Homo sapiens: one gene and its partner. The protein of the gene in region 1 purifies or fractionates together with the protein of each later gene. This does not show direct contact. Each region holds a gene or a part of one and is shown on either strand. Other genes may lie near its edges. The genes, in order: GOT2 and GPI.

Region 1 (16,226 bases):
TATATATACGTGTATATATATCTACCTGGATCCCTGGGTGAAAAGGATCCCCGCAATCATTTCTGAGGTCATTCTGGAAATGTTTCCTCTGGGTCTGTCTGGGAGCCAGCAGGAAACAAATGGGAGAGGCCCAGAGAAGCTCTGGATGCAGCAGAACAGAGCATGGTGTCTAGTAAGTTCTAAGTGATGGAACTTGGCGCCATGAACGCCTGAACCCAAAGGTCACTCAGACTGCCTAATCCAAGGACTTGCACATTGTTTTGTTAAAAATGATTCTGGCTGGGCACAGTCACCCAGGAGTTCAAGATCAGCTTAAGTGACAAAGCAAGACCCCATCTCCAAAAAAACGAAACAAAACAAAAAAAACTGATTTTACGTTCCAGCAGAAAGCCAGGTGAGAAGCGGAACGAGGCCAGCTCTTCCAGGTTGGCAGATGAACTGGGGGTCCCCAGGACAGGCTGCTGCCTCTGCGCTGCAGATGCCCAGAGCTCTCGCCGTGGCTGCCCTCCGGCCGGGCCCAGGCAGCAGGGAACCTCTCTCCCCTCCCCACCTGGGTGACTTGATGGCAGTAACAGCCTCTCCCAGCCTGGACCATACCAGCCACGAGGTCTCCTGGCCCAGTCCTGCCAGGCCCAGGCAAAGCCCCTGCAAGCTGCTAGGACACAGTGCCCTTGAGTGGCATGGGTGTGGCCAGGCGAAAAGGCAGGTCTACTGACACAGGCTTGGTCACCTCTGTAGGCCACGGGGCCGTGCAGATCTGGATCCTGGGTTGCCCGGTCTGTCCCAATTGGACAAGACCTCCCTAGGCCTGAACCAGCCAGGAGATGAGGGAGCCCAGGACAACAACAGATGGATGAGTCAGCAGCCATCAGACAAATCTACCAGACCTTAATATAGGTAGAGAGAAATAGTAGAAAAAGAGACCACATTTGGCCAACTGGAAATGCCTACCACCCTTTGGAAAGATTTACTGGCTGTGTGTATAATACACAGAAGGCCTGTGTATATAATATGAAAAAGCTAATCTCGATTTGCCCCCCAACTTTTTAAAAGAAAAAATTTGGCTGGGCTGGTGGCTCATGCCTATAATCCCAGCACTTTGGGAGGTCAAGGCGGGAAGATCGCTTCAGCGATCAGCCTAGGCACGTTCACAACCAGCCTAGACAACATAGTGAGACTCCCTTCTCTGCAAAAAATTTAAAAATTAGCCAAGTGTGGTGATACACACCTGTGGTACCAGCTACTCAGGAGGCTGAGGTGGGAGGACACTTGAGCCTGAGAGGCAGAGGCTGCAGTGAGCTATGAGTGTGCCACTGCACTAGAGCCTGGGCAACACAGCAGAGCGAGACCCTGTCTCAAAAACACAAAGAAAAAGAAAAAAGGAAACATTTGCAGCCAGGCACGGTGGCTCACGCCTGTAATCCCAGCACTTTGGGAGGCCGAGGCGGGTAAATCACCTGAGGTCAAAAGTTTGAGACCAGCCTGGCCAACATGGTGAAACCCCGTCTCTACTAAAAATACAAAAATTAGCTGGGTGTGGTGGCGGGCACCTGTAATCCCAGCTACTTGAGAGGCTGAGGTATGGGAATTGCTTGAACCCAGGAAGGTTGCAGTGAGCCGAGATTGCACCATTGCACTCCAGCCTGGCCTACAAGCGAAACTCCATCTCAAAAACAAAACAAAACAAAACAAAACATTTGCTACATCTAGTCCTTCTAGATGTAAAGAGGTTGCCAATTATGACAGAGTTAGAAAATCACACATCTTGTAAACATCCATTTGTTTTTTTAAAAAATCATAGAGATATGTCTCCTGAAAATGACTTTTTTCTTTCTTTTTTTTTTTTTTTTTTTTTGAGACAGGATTTTGCTGTCACTTAAGCTGGAATGCAGTGATGCGAACATAGTTCACTGTAGCCTCAAATTCCTGGGCTCAAGCAATCCTCTCACCTCAGCCTCCTGAGTAGCTGGGATTACATGCACATGCCACTATAACCAGTTAATTTTTTTATTTTTTATTTTTTATTTTTTTTGTAGAGATAGGGTCTTGCTATGTTTCCCAGGCTTGCCTAGAACTCGTGGCCTCAAGCAATCCTCCCATCTCAGCCTCCCTAAGGGCTGGGATTACAAGCATGAGCTACCCCACCCCAACCCCGCCACCCCCACTGGAAATGACTTTTTGAAATGTAGAAGCACCAAGAGTGACACACGTCCACGTTTGTACAGGGGGTTAGAGGACGTGAAACAGAAGTCTGTGAGAAGGAAGAGAAGGTTCTATGCCAGGCAGGTCATATGGAGAAGATGTTTTCATGTCATAATCATTGTTTCGTGCGTGCATTTTATTCTTCACTACTTTATATATAGTTGACAGTGCAAAGTACTTTTTTGAAATAACTAGTCTTTCTAGACGTTCCGAAGTGCCTGATATATGTTAAAAGTAGAGGTAGTAAAACATCACATTTTGTAAAACTTTTTTTTTTGAGACAGAGTCTCGTTCTGCCCAGGCTGGAGTGCAGTGGCGCGATCCCGGCTCACTGCAACCTCCACCTCCCAGGTTCAAGCCATTCTCCTTCCTCAGCCTCCCAAGTAGCTGGGATTACAGGCATGAACCACCACAACCGGCTAATTTTTGTATTTTTAGAAGAGATGGGGTTTCACCATGTTGGCCAGGCTGGTCTTGAGCTCCTGACCTCAAACAATCCGCAGGCCTAGGCCTGCCAAAGTGCTGGGGTTACAGGTGTCTTTTTGTTAAAATTCATGTGAAATGTTTTTGCCTAGTACACGTCGTGTTTGTGCACCGGTTCAGGGGAAGAAGGAAGCTCACTATAGCCTCTCAAAGTGCGATGAACTCTGCACCACTGTGCTTATAATGAAGCAAGATTAACCACTAGCCCTTCTGTCTGTGCATTTTGTTTTACTTATCTGTATATATCGTGTACATAAAAGATAAACGAGTCCTAATTTACAACAGCTACTCTTTCTAGATGTTAGAGAGGTTGCCAGTGTATGACAAAAGCAAAAGTAGAGTTAGTTAAATTAATATATTTTGTACATTTTGTTTTAAAATTCCTAGGAAAGATTGTCATCTGAAAATTTGAGCATTATAGCCCACTGCGTTGGTGTAGAAGGGAACAGTTTTAGGCCAGAATGTTCATATTTTGAAGACACTGTTAAATGATAACTATTGTGCTCACTTTGGCAGCATATACGCTAAAGTTGGAATGATACAGAGAAGATTAGCATGGCCCCAGTGTGAGGATGACATGCAAATTCATGAAGCGTCCCCTATTTTCTAATAAGAAATAAAGAAAAAAAAAAGCAGGCTAGGCACAGTGGCTCATGCCTGTAATCCCAGCTTTTTGGGAGGCCAAGGTGGGTGGATCACCTGAGGTCAGGAGTTTGAGACAAGACTGGCCAACATGGTGAAACCCCCTCTCTACTGAAAATATAAAAATTAGCCAGGCATGGTGGCGCATGCCTGTAATCCCAGCTACTTGGGAGGCTGAGGCACAAGAGTTGCTTGAACCCAGGAGGCAGAAGTTGCAGTCAGCTGAGATCCAGCCAGGATCACAGAGCCAGACTCTGTGTCAGGGGAAAAAAAAAAATGAAAGAAAAGAAAAGAAAAAAAACTGCAACTATTGTTTCATGTGTGAGGTTTATTCAGTACTGCTGTGTCTATGGAGGACAAATATCCTTACCTGAAACATCTAGTCTATGTAGATGTTTACAAGTACCCAACACATGTTCAATATAGAGGTAGTAAAATATCAATTTGTAAATATCTTTTTGCTGAAATTCATAAGAAATATTATCTTTTGGAAATAAAATTGTTAAACCACCTCTATGAGCAGGATAGTACCATCTATACTTTTCAATGGTTTGCAGGAGGTGGGAGGGAAGGAATTGCAAAAGGTAATATGCTAGTGCATTCACACTTGGAAATTTTCAGACACTGTTTTTCTGCGCATTTTGTTTATTTTGTTTTGCTGTGTATCTAGTGTATGTAATGGACAAATGAGTCCTAATTTTCCAACACCTAGTCTCTAGATGTTAAAAAGGCTGCCAGCGTATGACCAAGTCTTAGTAAAATTAGCTCATTTTGTACAGTTTGTATTGAAATTCATAGGAAACACTGTCCTCTGTAAATGACTTTTGGATATGAGTTTGTGCAACCTCTGTAAGCATTACACATGCCTGTACTAGTCCACTGGATTGATGACAGAGAGAAGGAAGTGAGGAGCATATGGTTCAAGCCCACGATGTTCTCATACTTAGAAGATACCTCAAATTATATGCAAAAACCTCAATTGCTTTTGCACCAACCTATAACAATTGTTACATGTATGCAATTTTTTTTTTTTTTTTTGAGACGGAGTCTCGCTCTGTTGCCCAGGCTGGAGTGCAATGGTGCAGTCTCGGCTCACTGCAACCTCTGCCTCCTGGGTTCAAGCGATTCTCCTACCTCAGCCTCCCGAGTAGCTGGGATTGCAGGTGCCCGCCACCATGGCTGGCTAATTTTTGCATTTTTAGTAGAGACAGGGTTTCTCCATGTTGGTCAGGCTGGTCTCGAACTCCTGACCTCAGGTGATCTGCCCACCTTGGCCTCCCAAAGTTCTGGGATTACAGGCGTGAGCCACCACGCCCGGCCCACATGTGTGCAGTTTTAACAGTGCCATGTACACAGTGGACAAGTTCTAATATGAAACACCTCTGAGAACAGTATAATCTCTGTAGTTGTTCATTGGGTTGAGGGAGATAAGAGGGAAGAAATTGCAAAATGTGTTTTGTTACTGTGTACTAGAAAATTTCAGCTTATTGGATGGGTGCAGTGGCTCATGCCTGTAATCCTAGCGCTTTGGGAGGCTGAGGCGGGCAGATCACCTGAGGTCAGGAGTTCGACACCAGCCTGGCCAACATGGCAAAACTCCATCTCTACCAAAAATACAAAAATCAGCCGAGTGAGGTGGGAGGCACCTGTAATCCCAACTACTTGGGAGGCTGAGGCAGGAAAATCACTTGAACCCAGGAGGCAGAGATTGCAGTGAGCTGAGATCCTGCCATTGCACTCCAGCCTGGGCGACACAAGCAAAACTCCATCTCAAATAAATAAATAAATAGAAAATTTCAGTCTATCCATTGCCCTATATGTTACATGCATTTCACTTAACTTTTCTGTACTGTATGTATTGTGTATATACTGGACAAATGAGTCCTAATTTTATAATGTCTAGTCTCTAAATATTAGTAAATAACACATTTTGTACAGTTTGTGTTAAAATTCATGAAAAGCTGTCTTCTGAAAAGGACTTTTGGAAGTGAAATGATAACATCTCTTCTAAGTGACACATGTCCCTATATCCACCAGATTGTTGGTGGAGAGGAGTTGGAAGAAATGAAGGATTCAAACCAGAATGTTCCTTGGCACTGACAAGGAAGTGAAAAAGTAAAAAGAAAAGAAGAAAAGAAACCAGAATGTTCCTATTTAGAAGATACTTTCAGATATAACCATTGCTACATGTGCCATTTATTTAATATTACTGTGTATATAGTGGAAAACTTAAGTCCTTATTTTTTTATTTTTTATTTTTTATTTATTTATTTATTTTTTGAGACGGAGTCTTACTCTGTCACCCAGGCTGGAGTGCAGTGGCGCAGTCTTGGCTCACTGCAACCTCCACCTCCCGGGTTCAAGCGATTCTCCTGCCTCAGCCTCCCGAGTAGCTGGGACTACAGGCGCATGCCACCACTACTGGCTCATTTTTGTATTTTTAGTAGAGATGGGGTTTCACTATGTTGATCAGGCTGGTCTTGAACTCCTGGCCTCATGATCCGCCCACCTCGGCCTCCCAAAGTGCTGGGATTACAGACATGAGCCACTGCACCCAGCCTAAGTCCTTATTTGAAACATCTACTCTTTCTAGATATTTAGAAGTGGACCAAGTATGTTAAAAGTAGAGGTAGTAAATAGCACATTTTATAGATATCCTTTTGTTAAAATTCATATGAAATGTTGTCTTTTAGAAATTGGTCAATTTAGAAATTGATTTCTCTGAGCAGTACACATTATTATATTTGTGCTAGTTCAGGGAGGAAGGAGGAGAAGAAAGTTCAAAGGGCTTTATACAAGAGTGTTTATGGTGAACAACATTTGACCGTTGTCCCTTACGTCTGTGCGTTTAATTTTACTTTGCTGTGTATCTAGTGTATATAAGGGTCAAATGAGTCCTGCTTTACAACATCTAGTCTTCCAAGATGTTACAGAGCTTGCCAGCATATGACAAAAGTGAACTTAGTAAACTAATACACTGAGTACACTTTACATTAAAATTCATAGGAAAGACTGTTCTTAAAAAACACTTATGGAAGTGAAATTTTTAAAATCCCTTGTAAGGTCAGGCATGGTGGCTCACACCTGTAATCCCAGCACTTTACGAGGCCCAGGCAGGTGGATCACCTGAGGTCAGGAGTTTGAGATCAGCCTGGCCAACATGACAAAGCCCCATCTCTACTAAAAATACAAAAATTAGCTGGGAATAGTGGTGGGTGCCTGTAATCTCAGCTGCTCCAGAGGCTGAGGCGGGAGAATGGCTTGAACCTGGAAGGCAAAGTTTGCAGTGAGCCAAGATTGCACCATTGCACTCCAGCCTGGGCGATAGAGCGAGGCTCTGTCTCAAAAAAGAAAAAAAAAAAAAATCCCAGCCTGGGCGGAGTGGCTCATGCCTGTAATCCCAGCACTTTGGGAGGCCAAGGTGAGCGGATCACGAGGTCAGGAGTTCGAGACCAGCCTGACCAACATGGTGAAAACCCATCTCTACTAAAAATACACAAAAAAAAAAAAATTAGCCAGGCATGGTGGCATGTGCCTGTAATCCCAGCTACTCAGGAGGCGGAGGCAGGAGAATCGCCTGAACCTGGGAGGCGGAGGTTTCAATGAGCCGAGATTGCACTACTGCACTCCAACCTGGGCGACAGAACGAGACTCTGTCTTAAAAAAATAAATAAATAAAAATTAAAATTAAAAAATCCCTCCTAAGCATTGCAGATGCTTATACTTGTCCCCTGGGTTGATAGAGGTAGGAAGGGGAAGGATTCTAGGCCAGAATGTTCCTAGTTAGAAAACATATTGAAATTATAGCCTTTGTTATGTATGTGCACCGTTTACTCAATGGTACTGCGTGTATAGTGAAAAACTTAAGTCCTGTTTGAAACAGCTCATCTTCCTAGATGTTTAAAAATGCACAAAAATATGTTAAAAGGGCTAAAGTAATACCCTTCTTTTTTTTTTTTTAAACATTATAGGAGTGGTTGCATTTTGGGGACAGAATTGTTAAAGTTGATGTCTTGGAGGGTATGCTGACTGCTCATTGGGTGGTGGTGGGTGATGGGGAGGAGGAAGTTTGCAGAGAGAAGGGTTCTATGCCCATGAGTTAGACTACTTCAGATGGCCTAACCATTGTTCTATATGCACATTTTAGTTATTATTGCGTGCATTAAATAATAAAATAAGTTATAATGCTCAAAGTATGTTAAAGTAGAGGAAGTAAAATAATCCCTTTATAAATGTACTCTTGTTCGTTTTTACAAACACCTGTCTTCTGGGAGAGACCTTTGTCCCTAGACCTCTTGGAGCTAGACATAGTCCTGTACTTAGTCCCTGGAATGGTGGAAGGAGAAGAGAAAGGGTGGAGGGAAGGGCTCTTCGGTAAATATCTAGAAGATGGTTTTAAATTAAAATCATAGGTCTACATGTGCATTTTTAGTAAATTAGCTGTGTTTCTTGAGGACAAAGTTCATTGTTTTGCAACATCTAAGCTTTATAGATGTCCCGAGGTGACAGTGTAAGACAGGAGTATTCAATCTTTTGGCTTCCTGGGCCACACTAGAAGAACTGTTTTGGGTCACACATAAAATACACTAACAATGATGACAGCTGAAGAGCTAGAGGAAAAAAAAATCACAAAAAAACTCATAATGTTTTAACAAAGTTTATGATTTTTTTTGAGATGGAGTCTTACTCAAAAATCAAAAACCTGATGATTTTTTCAAATGAGCATTTACTCCATATTGTAAAATACAGAGAAATGGAGACATGGTGGTTGACCCTGAGGGGGAAGGAGTGCTGTCATTTGCTCCTGAGACTGTCAGAGCAGGTGGACAGCTTAAAGGACCCGTGGCTCAGGACCAAAACCTGAAATGCAGTATTCATGAATCCAAGTAATTAATAGTAGGGTTGGAAATATGAGGTGCGTGGGTGAAAAAGCCCAGGGCAATGGCCAGAAGGGGCAGGTCCACAGAAAAGGGGGGTGGAGGGAGACTGGGGAGGTAGACAGCCAGGACAAGGAAGATAATCAGGAGGGGCATAGGCCATGTCTTTTCCTTCCTTCCTCCTCCACATACCACATTACCTCAGTCCTTTAAAGTTCAGATCAAATGTCACCTCCCCCATGAAGGCCTCCCTGATTTCCACAGCTGACATTGAGCCTTTCCTCCTCTGTGCTCCCCTGGCTCACTCTCTCCTCCATCTGATCTTTGCCACACTCTGCCTCCTCCTATTTTAACTTCCCCCCCACCCCTCGCCCCCTGACAGCGTCTCACTCTGTTGCCCAAGCTAGAGTGCAGTTGCACAATCTCGGCTCACTGCAACCTCTGCCTCCCAGGCTCAAGCAATCCTCCCACCTCAGCCTCCCAAGTAGCTGCAACTACAGGCGCACACCACCACACCTGGCTAATTCTTGCATTTTTTTTTGTAGAGACAGGGTCTCACTATGTTGCCTAGACTGGTCTAGACCGGTCCTGGACTCAAGCAATTTTCCTGCTTCAGCCTCCCAAAGTGCTGGGATTACAGGCATGAGCCATTGCACCTGGCCCATATTTTAACTCTTTTAAAAGTTAACTGGTGTACGTCCTTTGCACTCCAGCTGCTTTGAATGGAGATGTGATGGATGAAGCTATGGCTACTATCTTGGACCACTGGGAGTCAACCATACTTTAGGGAGGGCGGGGCGAGGATCTGGAAGGACTTGACTTCCTAAGGACTCTGGGTCAGAAATGCCACCCCAACCCTGGACTGCCTATCTCCAGATTTTTATGTGAGAAAGATATATATGTTAAGTCAATTATTCGGGGTCTCTGTTAACTGCAGACAACCCCAATTTTAACTAAAGCATTGGGAATTATTTCTGACTCCTTTTCTACCTTTCTCTGCATCTAATCACCAAATCCATCTGATTCTACCTCCTTGATATGCCCCAGATCTGTAACCTTTTCTACATCACTGTTACCTCTACCTGAACTCAGGCAATCAGAATTTCTTGCCTGGATTCCTGTGTAAACCTTCCTTCTACCTAGTCTCCCCACTGTAGGGTTGTTCCTTCCAATCCACCTTTCATATCAGGAACTCAAATTAGCATATATACATATGTATATGTGTGTATATATATATATGTATATGTGTATATGTATGTATATGTGTGTATATATATGTATATGTGTATATATATACACACACAAAAAACTATATGCACACACACACATATACACACATACAGAAAAGTACAGAATCCAATGTGACAAATACTCAACCCCAAAATGGTGACAATTGTTAATCTGATCTGTATTTTTTCTTTTTTTCTTTTTTTTTTTTTTTTTTGGAGTCAGAGTCTTGCTCTGTGCCCAGGCTGGAGTGCAGTGGCACAATCTAGGCTCACTGCAACCTCTGCCTCCCAGGTTTAAGCGATTCTCCTACCTCAGCCTCCTGGGTAGCTGGGACTATAGGCACGCGCCACCACATCTGGCTAATTTTTGTATTTTTAGTAGAGACGGGGTTTCACCATGTTGGCCAGGCTGGTCTCTAATTCTTGACCTCAGGTGATCCGCCCGCTTTGGCCTCCAAAGTGCTGGGATTACAGGCGCGAGCCACCGTGCCTGCCTCTTATCTATAATTTTTATGAAGCTAATATGACAAAGTTGTCTCCTTCCCTCCACAAGGGCAAATACGCTCATGCCCTCCTAATCCTGTATTGAACCATATCCTTGGCATATTTTTTCAAACTTTTACATACATTTATGAATAAATGTATGTTATGGTTTTGTGTATTTTAAAAATATTGTCTAAGTGGCACCATATTATATGTATAATTCTATAGCATGTTTATGTTTTTGAGGTCTATCCATGGTGACATCTATTGAGTTCATTCACGTTAGTAGTTCTGTAATGCTCCATCATGAGACTGTAGCAGAACATCCATCTCTTCCTCCATCGATGGGCGACTAGGTTGTTCCCTGTTTTGCTTTTATAAACAATGCTTTACTGACAGCCTTAAAAATGTGTGAGAAGATCTCTAGGGTTTATACCTGGACATGTAATTGTTTTGGGAATAGTAGTTGTTATGTGTTGAAATGTGCCCCCAAAAAAGATACGTTTAAGTTCTAACCTGGGGAACCCATTAATGTGATCTATTTGAAAATAGGGTCTTTACAGATGTAATCAGGCGAAGATGAGGCAATTAAGATGCACCCTACCCCAATATGATTGGTGTCCTTAAAAGAAGAGAAGAGACAGACAGGGAGAGAACACTGTGTGACACCAGAGGCAGAGATTAGTGATGCCTCTAACAGCATACGAATGCCCAGGAGTGCAGACAATTGCCAGAAGCTAGGAGAAGCATGGAACAGAGTCTCTGAGACCCCATAAGGCACAAACCCTGCCAATACCTTGATTTTTGATTTTGGGCCTCCAGAATTGTGAGTGAATAAATTTCTGTTGTTTTAAACCACCCAATTCATGGGGATTTGTTACAGCAGTCTGAGCAAACTGATGTACTGGTATGTTTGAAATTCTTGTTTCTTGGTGCTGTAAAGAAATAGCACTTGAACATAAATTTAATTTCCTCAGCAAGGCCATCTTTATACTTTCGGCAGAAAGGGTACACTCGACAGCAGTTTTGCCATGAGAGTACACCAAACAAAGGAGACAAGGTCACTTATAACCTGATACATCCACCTTGCTGCTGTGTCCGGTTTTCATTGGCTGGAACAGGTCCTCACATTTTGTATTTGTTCTGATTGGCTAGCAACTTAGAACTTTTTAAAAGAGGCAAAGGCAGAGGAGAGCAAAGGAAGGAGGAAGTAACTTGTGGAATGCTGAGAAAGGTAAAAACACCTTCAAATAAGGAAGAGGAACAGGCTATGACCTAATGCTTGCTTGGACCAGTATAAGCATGCCAGGGCAAATATTTAGGCTAAATGGTGGCAGCTAGGAACATAAAGTACATTGATTTCTTTATTATGGCTAGCAGATATTTAAGACTGTTAGTACAGGTCTTTGAATACATTTTGTTTTTAAGAGAAGTTACTATTTATTTCTAATTAGACAGGGAGGAAAGTCTTTAAAGAAGAATCTCTACTTTACTTTTCACAGGTAGAATCCCAAGTCATGGCCTATAGGCGCATAGGTCAAGGTCATATGAGAGCATAAGGGTCTGAGACAGTAAATTGGAGCTGGGCCGGAAGGACCTAGAATGTGGCCCTAAGTAGGGGTTTAGACTTTACCATTCAGGCAACGTGGAGCCACAGAGGAGATATTAAATTGCCAAGGTACACAGTTCTATCTCGGTTTTATTTTATTTATGTATGTATTTATTTATTTATTTAGAGCCAGCGTCTCACTCTGTTACCCAGGCTGGAGTGCAGTAGCGCAATCCTGGCTCACTGCACTCTTTTTTTTTTTTTTTTTTTGAGTCGGAGTCTGGCTCTGTTGCCCAGGCTGGAGTGCAGTGGCGCGATCTTGGCTCACTGCAAGCTCCGCCTCCCGGGTTCATGCCATTCTCCTGCCTCAGCCTCCCGAGTAGCTGGGACTACAGGCGCCCGCCACTATGCCCGGCTACTTTTTTTTTGTATTTTTTTAGTAGAGAGAGGGTTAGCCAGGATGGACTCGATCTCCTGACCTCGTGATCCGCCTGCCTCGGCCTCCCAAAGTGCTGGGATTACAGGCGTGAGCCACCGCGCCCGGCCTGCACTCTTGAATTAATGGGCTCAAGCAATCCTCCCTCCTCAGCCTTCTGAGTAGCTGGAACAGGCACGCAACACCACATCCTGCTAATTTTTTTTTATTTTTTTAAGAGATGGGGGTTTCATCTTGTTACCCAGGCTGGTCTCAGACTCTTGTTTTCATGCTATCCTCCTGCCTCAGTCTACCAAAGTGTTGGGTTTACAGGCATAAGCCAACACACCGGGCCCCTACCTTGGTTTAAGAGACGAGTATCAGAGAAATAGACTACACATGAGAAAGACTCGTTTGACTTGTGGATGTGTCTGAAATTCATTTGCTTTTTCCTTTAAAACCGATTCATTTCCTTCAAAACCGATTCATTTCCTTCCACAAACAGTTATCAGGATTTGACATACACGAGTTTGTCATTAATGACCATGGGTTATTTTGTGCTTACTAAATCAGGCCCTGTTTTAGACATAATCTGCTAATCTTATTAATCCTCACAACTGCCCCACAAAATACACATGCGACCCTCTCCATAAAAGGGATAAGGAAGCCAGGTGCGGTGGCTCATGCCTGTAATCCTAGCAGTCTTGGGAGACTGAGACGGGCAGATCACTTGAGATCAGGAGTTTGAGACCAGACTGGTCAACATGGTGAAACCCCCGTCTCTACTAAAAATACAAAAATTAGCCGGGCGTGGTGGTGGCACCTGTAACCCAGCTACTCGGGGAGCTGAGGCAGGAGAATCGCTTGAACCTGGGAGGCAGAGGTTGTAGTGAGCCGAAATCACGCCACTGCACTCCAGCCTGGGTGACAGAGTGAAACTCCATCTCAAAAAAAAAAAAAAAAAAAAAAGGGTGGGGGATAAGGAAACATTCAGGAACGACGTGACATGACTTGTGCTTAGGGAAACTATTAGGGTTGAAAGTAAGGCCACCTTGGGTCCTAATGGCTGTAAGGCATCAGACAAAATACGTCAACTATGTCAGCCTACATTTTCTCATCTTTCAAACTGCCATAACAGCAGCCACCTCTTCGGCCGGCCAGGCCTGGCCCAGCTGGATTAAATGAATGAAGCGCAGCAAGGGCTGGGCGTAGGTAAACTGTGCAGTCATCCTCTTCCACGACCTCCGCTGAGCCCACGCCGCTCCGCCCGCCGGCCGCCAGGGATCGCTGTGACGTGGCTCGGGCCCAGCACGCGGCCGCTCTGGCCCAGGGAAGTCCCTGTCCTTACCTTCAGCAGGAGCCGGTTCCCTGTGTGTGTGTCCGCTCGCCCTCTGCTCCGTCCTGCGGCTGCCCACTGCCCTCCTACGGTCCACCATGGCCCTGCTGCACTCCGGCCGCGTCCTCCCCGGGATCGCCGCCGCCTTCCACCCGGGCCTCGCCGCCGCGGCCTCTGCCAGAGCCAGGTAAGCCAAGGGAAACGGAGATGGAGCCAGGGCGATGGCCCTGCCCCGCCGAGCTGCGAGCACCCCAGGACATTCACCCCTCCCGGCCCCCAAATACACACTGTCACTCACACGCACACACACACACTTTTCTGCCACCCCCTCGGCTTTCCCTTACTGGGGACTGAGGATTGAGCGTCCGTGCCCCACAGTGATCCTCAGGATCCCACATCCCTCTGGTCCCCGCACTGGGCCCTGCAGGAAGGCGTGCAACGCAATCCCTAGGGAAAGGAAGTGTGGCCCTCGGCGGTTGCCGGACTCCCATTCAGTGGGAGGGGTGCGGATAGTACTGGGGCAGCGGCGCCGGGTAACGACCGTGCCCTTGATAGGGTGCCCTGGGGGCGGCGGGCGCACCTGTCCTGGCCCCCGGCCCGCCCGAGTCGGTGGGCCGGCGGCGGCTGGCTGCCGCGTGTGTGCCCTGGGCGGGAAGAGCGCGAGAGGAAGGTTTCCGGGGCGCCGGCATTCGGGCCTCGCTTTCCTTCCCGCACCTGCGACCTTGGCGTGCGGCATTCTCCTGACCTTGCGACCCCCCGAGGTCCCTGTGACCCCGGGGCCCGTTTGGCCTTTGCTTGGGAAAGGGTCGAGGTGTAGTGTGTCTCTTTTTTTGTTTTGTTTTGTTTTTTCCTTATTGCCCCTAAGGAGGTCCGGTTGCAGGGAGGCTATCAATCTTCCTCTCCATCTCCCTGTGCTCTTTCATTCAGTAAATATTTCGTAACTGCAGTTTCTCAGAGCCAGGCTCTGGACCAGATGCCAACGATACAACTGTGAACAAGGCGAGGGAAGGACAATGACAAATGGTCATTGCTCAAAAAATGACAAACGTAATTTCGTACTGTGGCGTGTATAATAGTATGGAGGGAAATTTCAGAGCTTGAAACGAGCTCTAGTAATTCATTCCCAGTGGAGACCGGAGCCAGAAGATTAATTCAACTCAAGAAGCCGATTTGGAGCACTCTCCTTAAGCACTACCTTAATAAGGAACTGAGTTTTAAAACCACCCCCAAGCAGGTATTAACTGCAAGGAGCAAAGCGTAGCTTGGCCTTTCGTTTGAATGTATGCTCTGTGTCTTTCAGCCAGCAGAACTATCTGTCCTTTCCAAGGCCCCACAGCCTTGGCAGTACAGTTTTGCCCAGGCTTCGCACTTTTTTCTCTTCCTGACTTGGCTCCTTCCTGGCCCACTGTCAACGTGTGCTCTTTAAGTCTGCCTACCTAGTGGGCCAGAGCCAGGAGGAGTTATTTATGCAACAAATTTGGAAAACCAAAGGAGTGCTTAAAATTTCCGTCAAGAGAAAGTATGTTTCCCTATTGCAGTAATCTTAAAATAATACCTTGTTTTATGGATTTGGCTAGATCACCTGAAGCTCTAGTGCTTGGTGAAAATCCCTTGGGGTCAGGGTTAGTCATTCTTTCAGTTTGAGAGTCTGACTCATTTTTCTTTTCTGTATTTTTCTTACTAGAATGTAAGTTCCATGAGAGCGGAGACTTTACCTACTTTATATTCACTGTTACATCTCAGCACTATTAACAGTTGCTGGCATGTCTCTTATATTGGATATTTTTATTTTAAGCCCTGATTTTTCACGTAATGCAACGGAAACAAATACAGTATGACATTTTAATGTTGTATCTTAGATCAAAATCTGAACATAGGCTGGTCCAAGTGTAATGGTGTTTACAACTAATTGATCATAACCAGTTACAGATTTTATTGTTCCTTCTCTCGACTAATCTTACACAGGGGAACCACAGTGCTGCAAAATATGTACCAAAAAAAATTCCCTTTTTTTTTTTCTTTAAATACAGGGTCTCACTGTGTTGCCCAGGCTGGAGTGCAGTGGCACAATCATGGCTCACTGCAGCCTGACCTTCCAGGCTCAAGTGGTCCTCCTGCTTCAGCCTCCCAAGTAGCTGGGACTGCAGGCATACACCACCACACCCAGCTAATTTTTTATTTTTTGTAGAGACAGAGTCTCCCTGTGTTGGTCTCAGACTCCTCCCACATCAGCCCCGCAAAGCGCTGGGATTATAGGCTAAGCAACCCCACCTGACCAGAAAATAAATTCTTGAAATAGTTGAGCACCTAATGTTGAGGAATTACTCTTCAGATTTAAATAATGATACCTGATTAGGTGACAGAATCAGATGCCATATTTGGCATGAAGGTTAACTCTTCAGGCAAGATCAGACTTCCCTCCTTACACTGTGGAAGTGATCTTTACCTAGCTCCAAATGGTAAAAGTGGAAAATACTTAAACTGAATTCATCGACATTTCTATTTAAATGGCTCATTCTAATACAATAAAACCTTGTCTGTTGTTATTCTGAAGAACTGAGGATTTATCCAATGGCATACTTGGAACTCTTTGTAAATATGTGGAACTCTTTGTAAGTTCAAGTGTATCATTTAGCTAAACACTGCGAATAAAACTTTCTCTTGTTGACTTGTACTGTAAATGTATAGTGACATGAGATCAGACATAGTTGCAGTTCAATGAAGAAAAAAAAAGATGCTAATGTATTTTGATTTATAATGATTTGCTTTTAATTATTTAATTCTGATTATTTACTTTTTGGTGAAATAACTGAGCAGGTCTCGTGAGACTTTAAAAATGCAGTGTGCAACTGTGGTACCATAACCATTGGTTAAAAGATCACAGACCAGGCACAGTAGCTCACACCTGTAATTCTAGCACTTTGGGAGGCTGAGGCAGGTGGATTGCTTGAGCTCGGGAGTTCTAGACCAGCTGGGCAACATGGCAAGACCCCGTCTCTACATAAAATAC
Region 2 (16,074 bases), on another chromosome or scaffold:
CGTCTGGAGAACGAGGGTGATGCCGGTGTGCCTGTGTGGGCTGTGCATGCTACGAGGGTGATCGTCCAAACTCTTGTCAGCTGTGATCATTTGCTGCTTGTCCTAGGAGCAGTGGCCTCCATGTGTGGCTGGTCAGAGTCCAGTTACTTTGGCCAAGAGCCACTTTCAGACCTGAAAATGGGCTGGGTGCAGTGGCTCACGCCTGTAATCCCAGCACTCTGGGAGGCTGAGGCAGGTGGATCATGTGAGGTCGGGAGTTTGAGATCAGCCTGATCAACATGGTGAAACGCCGTCTGTACTAAAAATACAAAAAAATTACCTGGGCGGGCATGGTGGCGAGCACCTGTAATATCAGCTACTGGGGAGGCTGAGGCAGGAGAATCTCTTGAACCCGGGAGGCAGAGGTTGCAGTGAGCCAAGATCACGCTACTGCACTCCAGCCTGGGTGACAGAGTGAGGCTCTGTCTCAAAAAAAAAAAACCAACAAAAAAACCAACCCATCTCTGGAAAAAATAAATAAATCAGCTAGGTGTGGTGGTGTATCCCAGCTACTTGGGAGGCTGGGGTGGGAGGATTGCTTGAGCCCGGGAGGTTGAGTCTGTACTGAGCTGAGATTGTGCCACTGTCCTCCAGCTCAGGTGACAGAGTGAGACGCCTCCAGGGCAAGGAAGTTGTGGGGTCCTGATGGGAATCTGGATTTCCTGAATGTCACTTAGGGTGATCAGTCCATGTGATGGTCTTTGGGTGTGTGGCGGGGCCTTTCCAGCCATCTGCTGTGAGTGGCAGAGCTGAAGTGCATTAAAAGCCTAGTGCTGTGTGATCAGTCTGGGTGTGCTCAGCCATGCCACATGGCGAGGATGGCACTGCACCGTCTGGGGTGCTGTTTCCAGGAAAGCCTTCCCTTAAAGCTGGCCACTGGAGTACCTGACTCAGGCTGATAAGGTATTTATAGTTCAAAAAAAGTTGCTGAATGGCAGTAATCCCCTGGTGAGGAACATTCCCCATGGCTGTGCTCTCCAAAGTTTGCCAAGATTGGGTGAAGACGTTCACTGTGACCTTGATTGTAGTGGCAAAACCTGAAACCAAGCTGTACTCATTTGTCAGGGGACTTACAAAGTAGAGTCAGCACATATTCATATACTGTCATCCTGGGCACCAATAGGGATTAGGGAGCTATAGTTGGATTGATCTGCCATGCTGTTCAGGATGGACTGGGAAGTTGAAAAAGGAAGTTGCAGAATTGGTGGGTATGGTAAAGACTCATTTGGTCAAATGAAGGCTGGGTGTAATTGTAATAAAGATAGACACATTTGGCTTGGTGCAGTGGCTCACACCTGTAATCCCAGCACCTTGGGAGGCCGAGGTGGGTGGATCACGAGGTCAGGAGTTCAAGACAAGCCTGGCCAACATAATGAAACCCCATCTCTACTAAAAAAAAATACAAAAAAGTTAGCCTGGCATGGTGGTGCATGCCTGTAGTCCCAGCTACTCGGGAGGCTGAGGCAGGAGAATCACTTGAACCCCAGAGGTGGAGGTTGCAGTGAGCCAAGATCACGCCACTGCACTCCAGCTTGGGCAACAGAGTGAGACTTTGTCTCAAAAAGAAAAAAAAAAAGACACATTTTTCCTCTGGGATGCTTCATTATAACAAACCTTTGACAGTCGGGAAAGGAGACTTGCTTTTTTTTTTTTGAGACAGAGTCTTACTCTGTTGCCCAGGCTGGAGTGCAATGGCGAGTTCTCGGCTCACTGCAACCTCCGCCTCCCAGGTTCAAGCAATTCTCCTGCCTCAGCCTCCTGAGTAGCTGGGATTACAGGCATCCGCCACCACACCCAGCTAATTTTTGTATTTTTAGTAGAGATGAGGTTTCACCATGTTGGTCAGGCTGGTCTCGAACTCCTGACCTCAGGTGATCCACCCACCTTGGCCTCCCAGAGTCCTGGGATTACAGGCATGAGCCACCACACCCAGCCAAGACTTGCTTTTTCTAACCTCTTTTGTCACACGCCTGTGAGGGAGGGTTGAGAAGTTGAACAACTTATTTTATTTCTTTCTGTATTGATGGAAATTTTCCCATGGCAGTTTATTTAAAGAAAAAGTAGGGCCAGGCACAGTTGCTCACATCTGTAATCCCAGCACTTTGGGAGGCAGAGGCAAGAGGATTGCTTGAGGCCAGGAGTATAATACCAGCCTGGGCAACATAACAAGACCCTGCCTTTAACAAAAATTTAAAAATTAGCCAGCTGTGGTGGTGTGTACCTATAGTCCTGGCTGCTTAGGAGGCTGAGGCGGGAGAATTGCTTGAGCCCAGGAATTTGAAGCTGCAGTGAGCTATGATCATACTCCTACATTCCAGGTCGAGCAACAGAGCGAGACCCTGTCGTTAAAACAAAACTAAAAAATACCCAGCAAGGTGCAGTGGCTCTTGTATAATCCCAGCATTTTGGAAGGGTGAATCGGATCACTGCAGGCCAGGAGTTCAAGACTAGCTTGGGCAACCTAGACCCTGTCTCTTTTTTGTTTGTTTGTTTTTTGAGACAGAGTCTCTCTCTTTCACCCAGGCTGGAGTGCAATGGCCTGATCTCGGTTCACTGCAACCTCCGCCTCCCAGGTTCAAGCGATTCTCCTGCCTCAGCCTCCCGAGTAGCTGGGATTACAGGTACCTGCCACCACACCCAGCTAATTTTTGTGTTTTTAGTAGAGATGGAGTTTCACCATGTTGGCTAGGCTGGTCTCGAACTCCTGACTTCATAATCTGTCCACCTCAGCCTCCCAAAGTGCTGGGATTATAGGCGTGAGCCACCGTGCCCAGCCTATTTTTTTTTTTTAATTAAAAAATAATTTATAGTCTGGGTGCTGTGGCTCACACCTGTAGTCCTAGCACTTTGGGAGGCCGAGGTGGGCGGATCACTTCAGGTCAGGAGTTTGAGACCAGCCTGGCCTACATGGCAAAACCCGTCTCTACTAAAAATACAAACAAAATTAGCCAGGAGTAGTGGCAGGCGCCCATAATTCCAGCTACTCAGGAGACTGAGGCAGCAGTATCATTTGAACCCATGAGGTGGAGGTTACTGAGAGCTGAGATGGCGCCACTGCACTCCAGCCTGGGTGACAGAGCGAGACTCTGTCTCAAAAAAAAAAAAAAAATTTATAACTGGGCATGGTGGTGCATGCCGGTAGTCCCAGTTACTTGGGAGGCTGAGGCAGGAGAATCGCTTGAACCCGGGAGGTGGAGGTTTCAGTAAGCTGAGATAGCACCACTGCATGCCAGCCTGGGTGACAGAGCAAGATTCCATCTCCAAAAAAAAAAAAAAAAAAATTAAAAGAAAATTGCTGGATCTTATTAGTGTATAGTAATTTTTTATTGATGTGTGGGAAATTATTCCAAAATTTAGCAACTAGAAGCAACAATCACCGTCTCTTTATGTGGGGAATTTGCAGTGGCTGTGTTTGGTGTAGTGGCTCTGATATTCTAAGGTTGCAGTCAAGATGTTGGCTAAGGATGTGGTCATTTGAAGGCTTCATGGGGGTTGGAGGGTCTGCTTTGAAGATGGCTCACTAGCAGTGCTGCCTTTGGGAGGCACAGACAGTTCGAGTGTCCTCATGACAAGGCAGCTTATTTCTCCCAGAGTGAGTGATCCAATAGAGAGTAAGGCAGATGCCTGGAGGTCTTTTGTGACCTAATATCAGGATTCACATTCTTTCTTTTTTTTATTTTTATTTTTTTGAGACAGAGTTTCACTCTTGTCACCCAGGCCAGAGTACAATGGCGTGATCTTGGCTCACTGCAACCTCCGGTCCCCGGCTCAAGCGATTCTCCTGCCTTAGCCTCCTGAGTAGCTGGGATTACAGGTGCCCGCCACCATGCCCGCCTTTTTTTTTTTTTTTTTTTTTTTAAATTTTTTTAGTAGAGATGGGGTTTCACCATTTTGGCCAGGCTGGTCTTGAACTCCTGATCTCAAGTGATCCGCCTGCCTTGCCCTCCCAAAATGCTGGGATTACAGGGTGAACCACCACGCCCGGCTACACTCTTTGATTTCTATAATACCCCGTTGGTGTTACAGATCAGCTCTGGTCATCATGGGAAGGGACTGCATCAGTGGGTTAATGCCAGGAGACAAGGACCACTGGTCACCATCTTAGAAGGTGGGGGACTATCATAGTCCCGCTTCTGGCGCCTAGTGATTGATTTTGTTCCTTCCACACACAGATACCCCACTCACTTTCTCCTAAGTCCATATTCTGTTACAGTATTAGAAGTCTGTTAGAAGTCTAGAACCTCATTTTGTCAAGTACAGGTGTAGTAGTACCTGCATTTCCTTTAGTACAGTTCCTTTCAATCTGAAGACATGAGAATTTAAAGAGACAAATTACCCCTCACACACCCAGCATACAATGGTGAGGTGGGCATGGGATGACTGGTATGTATGGGATAATTATTTCTTTTCTTTTCTTTCTTTTTTCTTTTTTTCTTTGTTTTTTTTTTTTTTGAGGTAGGGTCTCACACTGTCGCCCAGGCTGGAGTGCAGTGGTGCAGTCACTGCTCACTGCAGCCTCGAACTCCTGGGCTCAAGCAATTCCCCACCTCAACCTTCTAAGTTGCTGGGACTACAGGCACATGTCACCATGCCTGGCTACTTTTTTATTTTTTGTAGAGATGACGTCTTGCTATGTTGCCCAGGCTAGTTTTAAACTCTTGGCCTCAAGTGATCCTCCTGCCTCAGTTTCCCAGTAAGTGCTGGGATTATAGGCATGAGCCACTGAGTCCGGCCTGCATATTTAGGTTTTTATTATGACCACACTGTACTTCTGATACCAAAATCTGTATTAGTTATCTATCATTGTATAACAAATGACATCAAAACTTGGGTTAAAACAGCAATACACTTTTTTTTTTTTTTTTAAGACGGAGTCTTGCTCTGTCGCCCAGGCTAGAGTGCAATGGCGTGATCTCCACTCACTGCAACCTCTGCCTCCTGGATTTAAGCAATTCTCCTGCCTCAGCCTCCCGAGTAGCTGAGATTACAGGCACACGCCACCATGCCTGGATAATTTTTGTATTTTTTTTTTTTAGCAGAGACGGGGTTTCACCATGTTGACTAGGCTGGTCTCGAACTCCTGACCTTGTGATCTGCCTGCCTTGGTCTCCCAAAGTGCCAGGATTACAGGTGTGAGCCACCATGCCCGGCCTAGCAGTAAACTTTTATTACCTCTCACAGTGTCTGTGGGTCAGAAGTTTGGGAGCGGCTTAGCTGGTTGGTCTTGGTTTGGGGATCTCTCATAAGGCTGTAGTCAACATGTTGGCCAGCGCCCCAGTTATCGGAAGTTTTGATGGGTTTGGAGGACCCCCCTCTAAAGTGTCCCATACACAGGAAGCGAGTTGGCTGTGACTTTTGGAAAAAGGCCTTAGTTCGCTGCCGCGTGGGCTTCTTTATGAAACTGTTTGAATGTCTTCACAACATGATAGACAGCTTCCCCAAAGCGAGTCATCCAAGAGAGCAAAGCAGAAACTGCACGTTCTCTGAACTCACTTCTGAAGTCACATTTCACCCCTTTTTGCAGTCTCTGGATGGGTGCATAGGTCACCCCTCCCAGCACAGGCGGAAGCTATGCAGAGGCATGAATTCCAGGAAGCAAGGATCACTGGTGTCTGATTGGAGACTGGCTGCGGGTCTGATACTCCTTTCCCCAGCATAGCCCAGTCACAGTTTTCAACATTTCACATCTCTTGGTCTCTGGCATAGCAGATTCTGCCGAGTTATCCCTGGTTTTGCAAATTCTGACAGTGTCGCTGTAAGGTAGGGATGTCTCACTGTTGTAACCAGGAAAGAGTCTAGTTGGTGGTGAGTGTGGCAGGGACCAGTGTGGTCTCCAGAGACTCCTATGCCTTGTGTAGTGGCTCACGCCTGTAATCCCAACACTTTGGGAGGTCAAGATGGGAGGATTATTTGAGGCCAGGAGTTAGAGACCAGGCTGGGCAACGTAGCAAGACGCTGTCTCTACAAAAAATAAAATAGGCTTTGCGTGGTGGCTCATGCCTGTAATCCAAGCGCTTTGGGAGGCCGAGGCAGGTGGATCACCTGAGGTCAGGAGTTTGAGACCAGCGTGGCCAACACGGCGAAACCCCATCTCTACTGGAAATACTAAAAATTAGCTGGGCAGGGTGGCAGGTGCCTGTAATCCCAGCTACTTGGGAGGCTGAGGCAGGAGAATTGCTTGAACCCTGGAGCCTGGAGGCGGAGGCTGCAGTGAGCTGAGATCGTGCCGTTGTACTCCAGCCTGGGCGACGGAGTGAGACCCTGTCTCAAAAAAAAAAAAAAAAAGGCTAAAGCAGAGCATTTTGTTCTGTTTTTGGAGTCAGGGTCTTCCTCTGTCACCTAGGCTGGAGGTGCAGTGTTGCGATCTTGGCTTGCTGCAGCCTCAACTTCCTGGACTCAAGCAATCCTCCTGTCTCAGCCTTGAGCCACCCTGCCTGGCCCCTAAGGCACAGTTTTAAAAATAAGTAAATAGCGAGGCGCGGTGGCTCACACCTGTAATTCCAGCACTTTGGGAGGCCGAGCTGGGCAGATCACTTGAGGCCAGTAATTCGAGACCAGCCTGGCCAACATGGCAAAACCTCGTCCCTACTAAAAATACAAAAAAATTAGCTAGGCATGCTGGTGGCGCAGGCTTGTAGTCCCAGCTACTCAGGAGACTGAGGCATGAGAATTGTTAGAACCCAGAAAGTGGAGACTCTGTCTCAAAAAAAAAATTAAAAATAAATAGCTGGGTGCGGTGGCTCAAGCCAGTAATCCCAGCACTTTGGGAGGCTGAGGCGGGCAGATCACAGGGTCAGGAGATCGAGACCATCCTGGCTAACACGGTGAAACCCTGTCTCTACTAAAAATACAAAAAACTAGCTGGGTGTGGTGGCGGGCGCCTGTAGTCCCAGCTACTCAGGAGGCTGAGGCAGGAGAATGACGTGAACCTGGGAGGCAGAGATTGCAGGGAGCCGAGATCATGCCACTGCACTCCAGCCTGGGCAACAGAGCAAGGCTTCATCTCAAAAAAAAAAAAAAAAAAAAAAAAAAAAAAAAAAAATATATATATATATATATATATGGTAAATTAAAAACAAAAAAATAGAGGCACCTGCGAGGGCCTGAAAGCTGGGACTGAGGTACCAGGACACGGCAGTAATGATGTTTTTGAGCAGCGGATTATGCCTGGGGGTTTGGGCTGATGGCATCTTCGCCCCTGTGCCAGCGTGTCCGGAGCGGTGACTGGAAGGGGTACACAGGCAAGACCATCACGGACGTCATCAACATTGGCATTGGCGGCTCCGACCTGGTGAGGAGAAAACTGCCTTGGGGTAGGGTGGGAGTCTGGGCACTGTTGGTCCCACTCAGGTCTTTACTTTCTCCAGGGATGGGACCTGGCTGTCTCCACTTTTCGTGGGCCCTGAATTCTTATTCTCTGATGCTATGTCTCCCCGCAGGGACCCCTCATGGTGACTGAAGCCCTTAAGCCATACTCTTCAGGAGGTCCCCGCGTCTGGTATGTCTCCAACATTGATGGAACTCACATTGCCAAAACCCTGGCCCAGCTGAACCCCGAGTCCTCCCTGTTCATCATTGCCTCCAAGGTATGAGTGCCGAAAACTGCCCGGCCCCTGGCCCTGTGTGTGTTGGGGTGGGGAGGGACAGCTGTCTTGCCATCCCCCTGGCCATTGGTCCCTTTTGGTGGGTTCCGAGTGAACCATGGTTTGTGGATCAGGTCAGTACAGCTGCCCTAGACTGTTTCCATGCCTAGCAGCAAATAAGGTTGACTGATGAAATCCTGAACACATCAGTTTGAACCTTTGTGTCCTGACCACACCCGCTCGCCTTGCGGCATCTCTGCTCAGCCTGGGACTGCTCGCCACTTTCTTACAAACCTGTCCTTTATGCCTGCTCCTTTTCTTGTTGTTGTTTTTGAGACAGAGTCTGGCTCTGTCACCCAGGCTGGAGTGTAGTGGCGTGATCTCGGCTCACTGCAATCTCCGTCTCCCAGGTTTCAAGCGATTCTCCTGCCTCAGCCTCCCAAGTAGCTGGGACTAGGCACACACCACCACGCCTGGCTAATTTTATTATTTATTTATTTATTATTATTATTTTTTAGTAGAGATGGGCTTTTGCCATGTTGGCCATGCTGGTCTTGAACTCCTGACCTCAGGTGATGCACCCCCCCTTGGCCTCCCAAAGTGCTGGGATTACAGTCTTGAGCCGCCATGCCCAGCCATGCTTGCTCCTTTCTGATCCCAGAGCCATGCCCTGATAATAGAGGGGTTTTGTTTGTTTTTATTTATGTTCTATTTACTCACATGAATGTACATAAAATATGAAGAATTCCATCTGAATTCTGAGATACCTTCCAGCCTGGGCCGAAGAGAGCCTCAGGTTGACTGCAGCCCCTCAGGGGAGAAGCTGCGGCCTTTGACCTGCAGGCTTAGGGTTGGGGGGTGTGTTTACCGTCCCCCCTCCTCTGGTTTTAAAGAGCTGGAATCTCAGGAGGTTATGTGGCGTCACTGTCACTGACCTGCAAATACTGCTCCATGGGACAGCTGGGCATTGCCTTGGCCTCTACTGCTGAACCCTGGCTCAAGGCCTGCACCCACCCCTAAGCTCGGGCGCCCACTGCTGTTCTCTTTGGTTGCAGACCTTTACTACCCAGGAGACCATCACGAATGCAGAGACGGCGAAGGAGTGGTTTCTCCAGGCGGCCAAGGATGTGAGTGGGCTATAGGGCCTTCCTCGTGGTTAGCCTCTGGGCTGGGAAGAGCAGGGTGGGCCCCTGAGTGACCAAGTCTGGCCGTGTTTCTCCTGAAGTTGGAAGTGAAGGCGGCCTTGCCGGTGCCTGCCTTTGCTAGATGAGATGATTGTTCATCTTGGCTTTGTCAGACCCAGCCTTGCAGATGTGACAGAACCTGCTCTCGCTGGCTGACAGCCCTTGCATGGCCCTTTCTCTGCAGGCCCTTGGCGCTGCAGGAACTCTTGGCCACACCTATTTTATAGGGGAGGGACGTCCCTGAGCCCCGTATGCTTGTAAGATGGGATGAGCAGGCGGCCTGTGACCCGTCTGCTTTCTTGACCTTGACCTCGATGTGGGCCTTCTCCAACAGTCTCAGAACCAAGGACTGGGAATCTCAGTCCCATGCAGGGCCTTGGTTCCTCTAGTGATGGGAAGTGACTACCCTTTGTCTCCCTGGGCTGGCTGTGGTAACTTGGCTCTGTCTCTTGTAGCCTTCTGCAGTGGCGAAGCACTTTGTTGCCCTGTCTACTAACACAGTAAGTGCCCCCGTGGTCCCCTGTACTGCCTTCCTGGGAGTGCCCAGCATGTCCAGGTCATGGCCTCTCAGAGACGCGGTTCGTAGGTCTGGTGGATCTTGGCTTGGCTGATGGTATGGAAGGTTTGGTTGCCTGTGGGCTGCAAGCCTTCCTTGCCTTTTCCGCATTTACCCATTCAACCTCTGCAGCTTTGAGGAGGGAGGCTTGGAGTCAGTGGGATCACGATAACCCCTTCTTCCGTCTCCCAGGCCTGACTGATACACAGAACCCTTCATACACATGACCTTCCTAGGCCTTTGTGCCCAGCATCTCCCCAAATGTGACATGCTAGGTAGGGGTAGAGGATGCATTCCATTTTTCACTTAAGGACATAAAGCCCCAATGAAGGGAGGTGACATTTTGCCCCCTACTTAGTGTGTGTGGTTTTGTTTTTTTTTTTTTTTTTTTTTTTTTTAAGACAGTCTCACTCTGTTGCCCAGGCTGGAGTGCAGTGGCGTGATCTTGGCTCACTGCAACCTCTGCCTTCCAGGTTCAAGCGATTCTCCTGCCTTAGCCTCCCGAGTAGCTGGGATTACAGGTGCACGCCACCATGCCCAGCTATTTTCGTATTTTTAGTAGAGACGGGGTTTCACCACGTTGGCCAGGCTGGTCTCTGACTCCTGACCTTAAGTGATCTGCCCACCTCAGCCTCCCAAAGTGCTGGGATTACAGGTGTGTGCCACCATGTCCAGCTTATTTTTTGAGACAAGGTCACTCTGTCACTCAGGCTAGAGTGCAGTGGTACGATCTTGGCTCACTGCAACCTCTGCCTTCTGGGTTCAAGTAATTTTTATGCCTCAGCCTGCTGATTCTGGGATTACAGGCGCCCACTACCACGTCCAGGTAATTTTTGTATTTTTGGTAGAGACAGGTTTTCTCCATGGTGGCCAGGCTGGTCTCGAATTCTTGACCTCAAGTGATCTGCCCACCTCGGCCTACCAAAGTGTTGGGATTATAGGCATGAGCCACTGTACCCGGCCCACTTAGTGACTGTATGAGTAGGTGATGCCAGGATTAGAACCTGGGTCTCCTGTCTCCAAGTTCTCACAGTCTGCCTGGCCTCGAGGTTGTGCAGGCTCAGCAGGGCATGACAGAGTGAGGGATGCTCCAGGAGTGACAGCAGCAGTCAGCCAGTGGGCACTGTGCTGTGTCAGAGCTGGGGACTACACCCACATCTCCCTCCCACCCCCTCCACCATCATCCCCACATCTCTGCCTCCAGTGCCTACCCAGCTGCAGCAGGACGCCATAAGGCTGGCTAACCATAGCACTGTTGCCTGCCTGCAACTGACTGGTCAGTAGGGCTTCTCCTCCTATGTGGAATAGGTAAGGAATTGCTGGCCCTGTCTGCCCTGGGGACCAGAATACCTGATGGCTCCTCAGAGCTTCCTGGTGCAGTCACCCTCCCACACATGGGAAGGGCTGGGTGGCTGTTCAGCCTGTGTTTGTTTGCCTGGCCTGGTAGGTGGCCCCTGCCCACACTTGGGTCCCAGTCCTAGGTTCGGTTCCCAGATGTCCAGGGGTATCATGCTCTGGTGTCCCAGGCAGGCCTGGGTGAGAGCTGTTGCAGAGCAGTGTGTGGGCCAGGTCCTCACACGGGGTTACAGCTGCCCTCAGCAGGGGGCTTTGCAGGCACAACGTCACTGGCGTGCTGGTCATGGACTGATCTGGTGTCCAGCTTGGGGTGGGCAGATCCTGGGCCCTGCCCTCGACTCACAGGCTGCTCCAGCCCTGCCCCATCCCTGGCTCTGGGGAAGGTGAGGCTCAGCTCACGGAGCACAGCTCCCTGCCTCCCGGAGCTCCTGTTCCCATCCCGCTAGCAAATGCTTCTTTGCATTTCTCTCCCTTTGTTTTTTTTTTTGTAGACCAAAGTGAAGGAGTTTGGAATTGACCCTCAAAACATGTTCGAGTTCTGGGATGTAAGTACAAGCACTTCTGCACTGGGTGAATTAAGTGTCCTTTGCCAAGTCATGGCTGTTGAGAGGCCCATGAGGTCAGGTCAGTGTTTATTGAGTACCTGCTGCATACCTAGCTTGGGGAAAGGTAGAGAGGCCCTCAGAGAGGCTTGGAGGGCAAGAGCAACCCAGGCAGGATGAGGGCTCCACTTCCACCTGAGGGCGGGCTGAGCTTGCAGGGCCACATGACACTCCCTTGGGTGCCTGCCTGCAACACCCACTGTGGGGTAACCCGAGTCCCCCTTGCCACGCTCACAGAGTTGAGGTTGTGAGTTATTCTCAGTGATGACCTTTCTCTGAACTGCAGCCACCATCTGTAAAGGCCAAGGGCAGGGTGAGGCATGAGGTATGACCGGGTAGGCCTGGAAAGGAGCAACAGGAGCTGCAGGAGGAGCTGGGGGGGTGGCGTAGAGGAGGCGCCAGGCTGGGGCAGCTTGCAGAGCAAACCCTGCCTTGAGTGACAGGGCTGCCGACCCCTCTGTAGCAACAGGTGGTCCATGGGACCACCTCTGCTGGAGCCGAGCAGTGAGCCACAGCTTTCCTTGTGCACTTGCCTGAGCTCAGCAGTGGTGTGAGGAGGGCTCTGACTGTGAAGCCCAGGGTGCAGGGGTGCAGTGCAGGGTGTGATGCAGGCACTGTGAATGCTGTGGGCATGGCCGGGCTTACGTGCAGGGCTCTAACGCTGTGGCAGGCGCAGCAGAGAGGGCATTGCCCATTTGGTGGTTTTCCCACCTGGGGCTGTCTCCAGGCATTTGGACCAGAGGCCCTTTGCTTGGTGATGGCATCCACAGACATAACCTCATTCCTTTGAAAGCTCTAAAGGCCTTTTACTACCAGGGTCTGGGAGAGAATGAAGCCCTAATCCCTTAAGCCATCCACTGTGTATAATGAGTTAACTTCTTTCTAGAATGAGACTAGTTACATACCATCCTTGGAAGAATTGACGAGAATCACTCAAGTCATTTTCTGCATCCTGTGGCTCAGATGCGGAACACTGGTCAAGAGAGACTGTGCGGCTTCTAATAAATGTTGCATGGCTGATAATGGAGGGCAGGCACCTTCCACCTCCTCCTTGGGATCTGGAGCCTGAGCAGGTGGTGGGCAGGGATGTGTGGGTGCTGCTGCCAGCCAAGGAGCCAAGCAGATCGGGGTGTCCTTGCTTGTCACCACCCAGCATGTAGAGATGAGTTAGGGTGTGGCTTAAGGAGAGGATGGGTCTGGCCTCCCAGGTAAGGCCTAGGAATGATAGCTGGACACAGGAACATGGGGCCAGGGCTGGCTGGTGAGACCTAAGTGGAGGCCTCCTGGGCCAGGCTAGACAGCCCACAACGGCTGGAGGAGGGACCTGCCTGAGTTACTAGAGTGTATCCTGCTGAATCAAGAAGGTGATATCTGAAGAACCCAGGGATAGGAGCAGGCGAAGTTCCTGCAGGTGGGGTCTCGGGTGAGCTACAGCCATCAGCTCAGGCCTAGGGATGCAGTGCCGGCCCTCAGGTGAGATCAGAAGAGTCCCGTCTGGTAGGGGTATGTAGAAGAGGTAATTCTTGGTCCGCCAGGGCCAGTTTTGCGGCAGCCATGGGTGTCGGGATCAGGCAGGGGTGTGGTGGGAAACCATGGGGTCTCTCAGGGCTCGGCCAGGGTCAGCGCACGCCACAGGGCCAGTTTTGGCTGGAGAGGCCTGAAGCAGAGCCAGAGCAGGTCCAGGTGAGTTCTGAAGAGGAGCCAGGACAGGAGAGGGACCCATAGGTCTGTGAATTCCAGAGGAGAGGCAGGTATTTAGAGGTGGTTCTGTCAGGTGAAGTCTGAGGAGCCAAAGCTATGTATGTGCATATGTCAGCCGGGCTCTGTGGGAGGTGGTGTAGACCTATGGCATGGGACAGGTGTGCACGCTGGGATCTCTGGCCGGTTCCGAAAAGTGAGGATCAGGTAGTGGGTGGCTGATTGCACAAGTTTAGAACCCAGGATTAGGGACACACAGGTCAGCACCTGCTTCTCAGCATCCTGACTGGGTGTGATGGGCAGAGCTCAGGGCGTCAGAGGCCTCTGAGAATTTGTGACTGAAGTCCAAGTCTGTGGCATCAGGGTCTGCAGAGCCCAGATGCGGGAGAGGTAGGAATGTACCTGGTGATATGAGGCAAGGACAGGGGAGCTGGGGCAGGTGAGGCAGGCAGGTGGCATGAGGAGCTGTGCTGGGTGGGTGCGGTCTGAGTGGCTCAGGTTGGGTAAAGGGCCAGAGACCTGGGTCTACAGGGCAGACATCAAGGCTGAGCCAGTCAGACAGTGTTTGTCAACACTGGGCTCTCACCAGGCTCCCTCAGGCCGAGGTCAGCAGCCAGGGATCTGTCATGTGTGAGGAAAGTGTCTGTTCAGGTTAGGTGTGTATAATGCAGCCTTTCAGAGCCGCGTCTGTCTGAGGTCCTAGGAGCTGGAATCAGACAGGTTTGTATGGCTGGGTTTCTAGGGGAGGCCTGAGGAGCCAAGACTGTACTCAGGTAGGCAGAACTGGACCAGTCTGGTAAGGACGTTGGAGCTAAAGATAGGCAGACAGGTCGAGCTGGGTCTGACAAGTGAGGGCTGAAAATCTGTGATTGGGTCCAGGTTGGAGCTGTGTCCTTGGGCGATGTCTGAGCAGCTCTGGTGGGTGAGCCTGGGTCCCCTGGGAAGAGACCAGACAAAGGGATGGGGTCAGACAAAGGGATGACGAACCGCATCCATCAGAAAGGTGGATGAAGCCTGGGTCTGGTCGAGGTACGTAGAGCAGATCTAGCAGGCGAGGTTTCAGGGGTTAAGGTGAGACACAGGTATGTATTTTTGGGTCTCACAGGTTAAGGTCTGAGCCACTGAGGTCAGGCTCTGGTTTGTATCCCAAGACCGAGAAGCTGTGTTAAGCATGGTGGGTAGAGTTTGTCAGGTGACATCTATGAAACCAGGAGCATGCAAAGATAGGTTGACCGGAACAGCCATGGTCAAACCAATTAAACTGTCCTGCAGTTGAGGTCAGGCACAGGTAGAACGGATCTATCAGGTGAGGCCCAAGGAGTCCGGATTAGGCTCATCTAGAAAGACCTGGATGTGGTAGATGACCTCTGAGGATATGAAGTGAAGGCAGGTGGATAGAGCCAGGTCTCTCAGGAGGTCTGAGGAGCTGGGATCTGGCACAGTGAGCAGGTCTGGATTTCCCAGGTGGTGTCAAGACAGATGGGTAGGCCAGGCACAGTGGCTCACACCTATAATCCCAGCAATTTGGAAGGCCAAGGCAGGCAGATCAGTTGAAGTCAAGAGCTCGAGACCAGCCTGGCCAGCATAGCGAAACCCCGTCTCTACTAAAACTACAAAAATTAGCCAGGCATGGTGGTGCATGCCTACAGTCCTAGCTACTTGGGAGGCTGAGGCACCAGAATTGCTTGAACTGGGGAGGCAGAGTGAGCCAAGATGGTGCTACTGCACTCCAGCCTGGGTGACAGTGAGACTATCTCCAAAAAAAAAAAAAAAAAAAAGCGGGGGTTGGGTGTGGTGGCTCATGCCTGTAATCCCAGCACTTTGGGAGGCCAAGGTGGGTGGATCATCTGAGGTCAGGAGTTCAAGACCAGCCTGGCCAACATGGTGACGGGGTGAAACCCCATTTCTACTAAAAAATACAAAAATTAGCTGGGTGTGGTGGCACACGCCTGTAATCCCAGCTACTCAGGAGGCTGAGGCAGGAGAATTGCTTGAACCCGGGAGGTGGGGTTTGCAGTGAGCCGAGATCATGCCACTGCACTTCAACTTGGGCAACAAGAGTGAAACTTTGTCTCAAACAAAAAACAAAAAAAAAAAAAAAAGAAAAAAGATGGGTGGGTAGAAGTTCTTCTCCTGGGTGAGGTTGAGGAGCTGTGGCCAGGTACAGGTATGTAGGTATGTGGAATTGAGTTTCTTGGGTGAGGTCTTTGGAGCCTGGCCCAGGTACATCTTCGGGTCTATCAGGTCTGAAGAACGGGAGTTAAACACAGGTGTGTAGAACAGGGTTTGGCAGGTAAGGTCTTTGGAGCCAGGATCAGGGCAGCTTCACAAAGCTGAGTGTGTTCATGAGACCTAAAAAGTCATAGTCAAGCCCAGGTAAGAAGAACCAAGTGTGTTGGATGAGGTGTAAGCAGCTGAGGTGTGAAGTAGAGGTAGGCAGAGCTGGCCCACAAGGTACAAGCTCAGGAACCCTCATCACATGCAGGTAGGGGGTGCTGGTCCACCAGGCACAAGCCCAGGAGCCAGCATTGAGCACAGGTAGGCAGACTTGGCCCACCAAGTATGATCTGAAGAGCCAACATCAGGCTCAGGTAGGTAGATCTGGCATGCCAGGTGTACTCCAAAGAGCCAGAGTCAAACACAGGTAGGTAGAGATAGTCTTTCAGGTGTGGTTTAAGGAGCCAAGGTCAACTACAGGTAGGTAGAGCTGGCCCACTGGGTGTGGTTTGAGGAGCCAGGGTAAGCACAGGTAGGCAAAGCTGGCCCACCAGGTATGGTCTGAGGAGCCAGGGTCAGACTCAGGTAGGTAGAGCTGCCTGCCAGGTATGGTCTGAAGAGCCAGGATCAAGTACAGGTAGGTAGTCTGGGTCACTAGGTGTGGTCTGAGAACCCAGCGAAAAGCTCAGGTAGGTAGAGATAGCCTTTCAGGTGTGGTCTGAGAACCCAGGGTCAAGCACAGGTATGTAGAGATAGCCTTTCAGGTGTGGTCTGAGAACCCAGGTTCAAGCACAGGTAGGTAGAGATAGCCTTTCACGTGTGGTCTGAGAACCCAGGTT

The links.
Region 2: the proteins of GOT2 (region 1) and GPI fractionate together in Homo sapiens (co-fractionation; 2 studies listed by BioGRID). This does not show direct contact.

Annotation. Positions count from the first base shown.
Region 1 is NC_000016.10:58,731,317-58,747,542, reverse strand, and holds the start of GOT2 (aspartate aminotransferase, mitochondrial isoform 1 precursor), read left to right. Parts: upstream 1-13,226; 5' UTR 13,227-13,314; coding exon 13,315-13,403; intron 13,404-16,226. UniProt on the Homo sapiens protein: Catalyzes the irreversible transamination of the L-tryptophan metabolite L-kynurenine to form kynurenic acid (KA). As a member of the malate-aspartate shuttle, it has a key role in the intracellular NAD(H) redox balance.
Region 2 is NC_000019.10:34,370,257-34,386,330, forward strand, and holds part of GPI (glucose-6-phosphate isomerase), read left to right. Parts: intron 1-7,246; coding exon 7,247-7,330; intron 7,331-7,478; coding exon 7,479-7,625; intron 7,626-8,677; coding exon 8,678-8,749; intron 8,750-9,261; coding exon 9,262-9,306; intron 9,307-11,209; coding exon 11,210-11,263; intron 11,264-16,074. UniProt on the Homo sapiens protein: In the cytoplasm, catalyzes the conversion of glucose-6-phosphate to fructose-6-phosphate, the second step in glycolysis, and the reverse reaction during gluconeogenesis.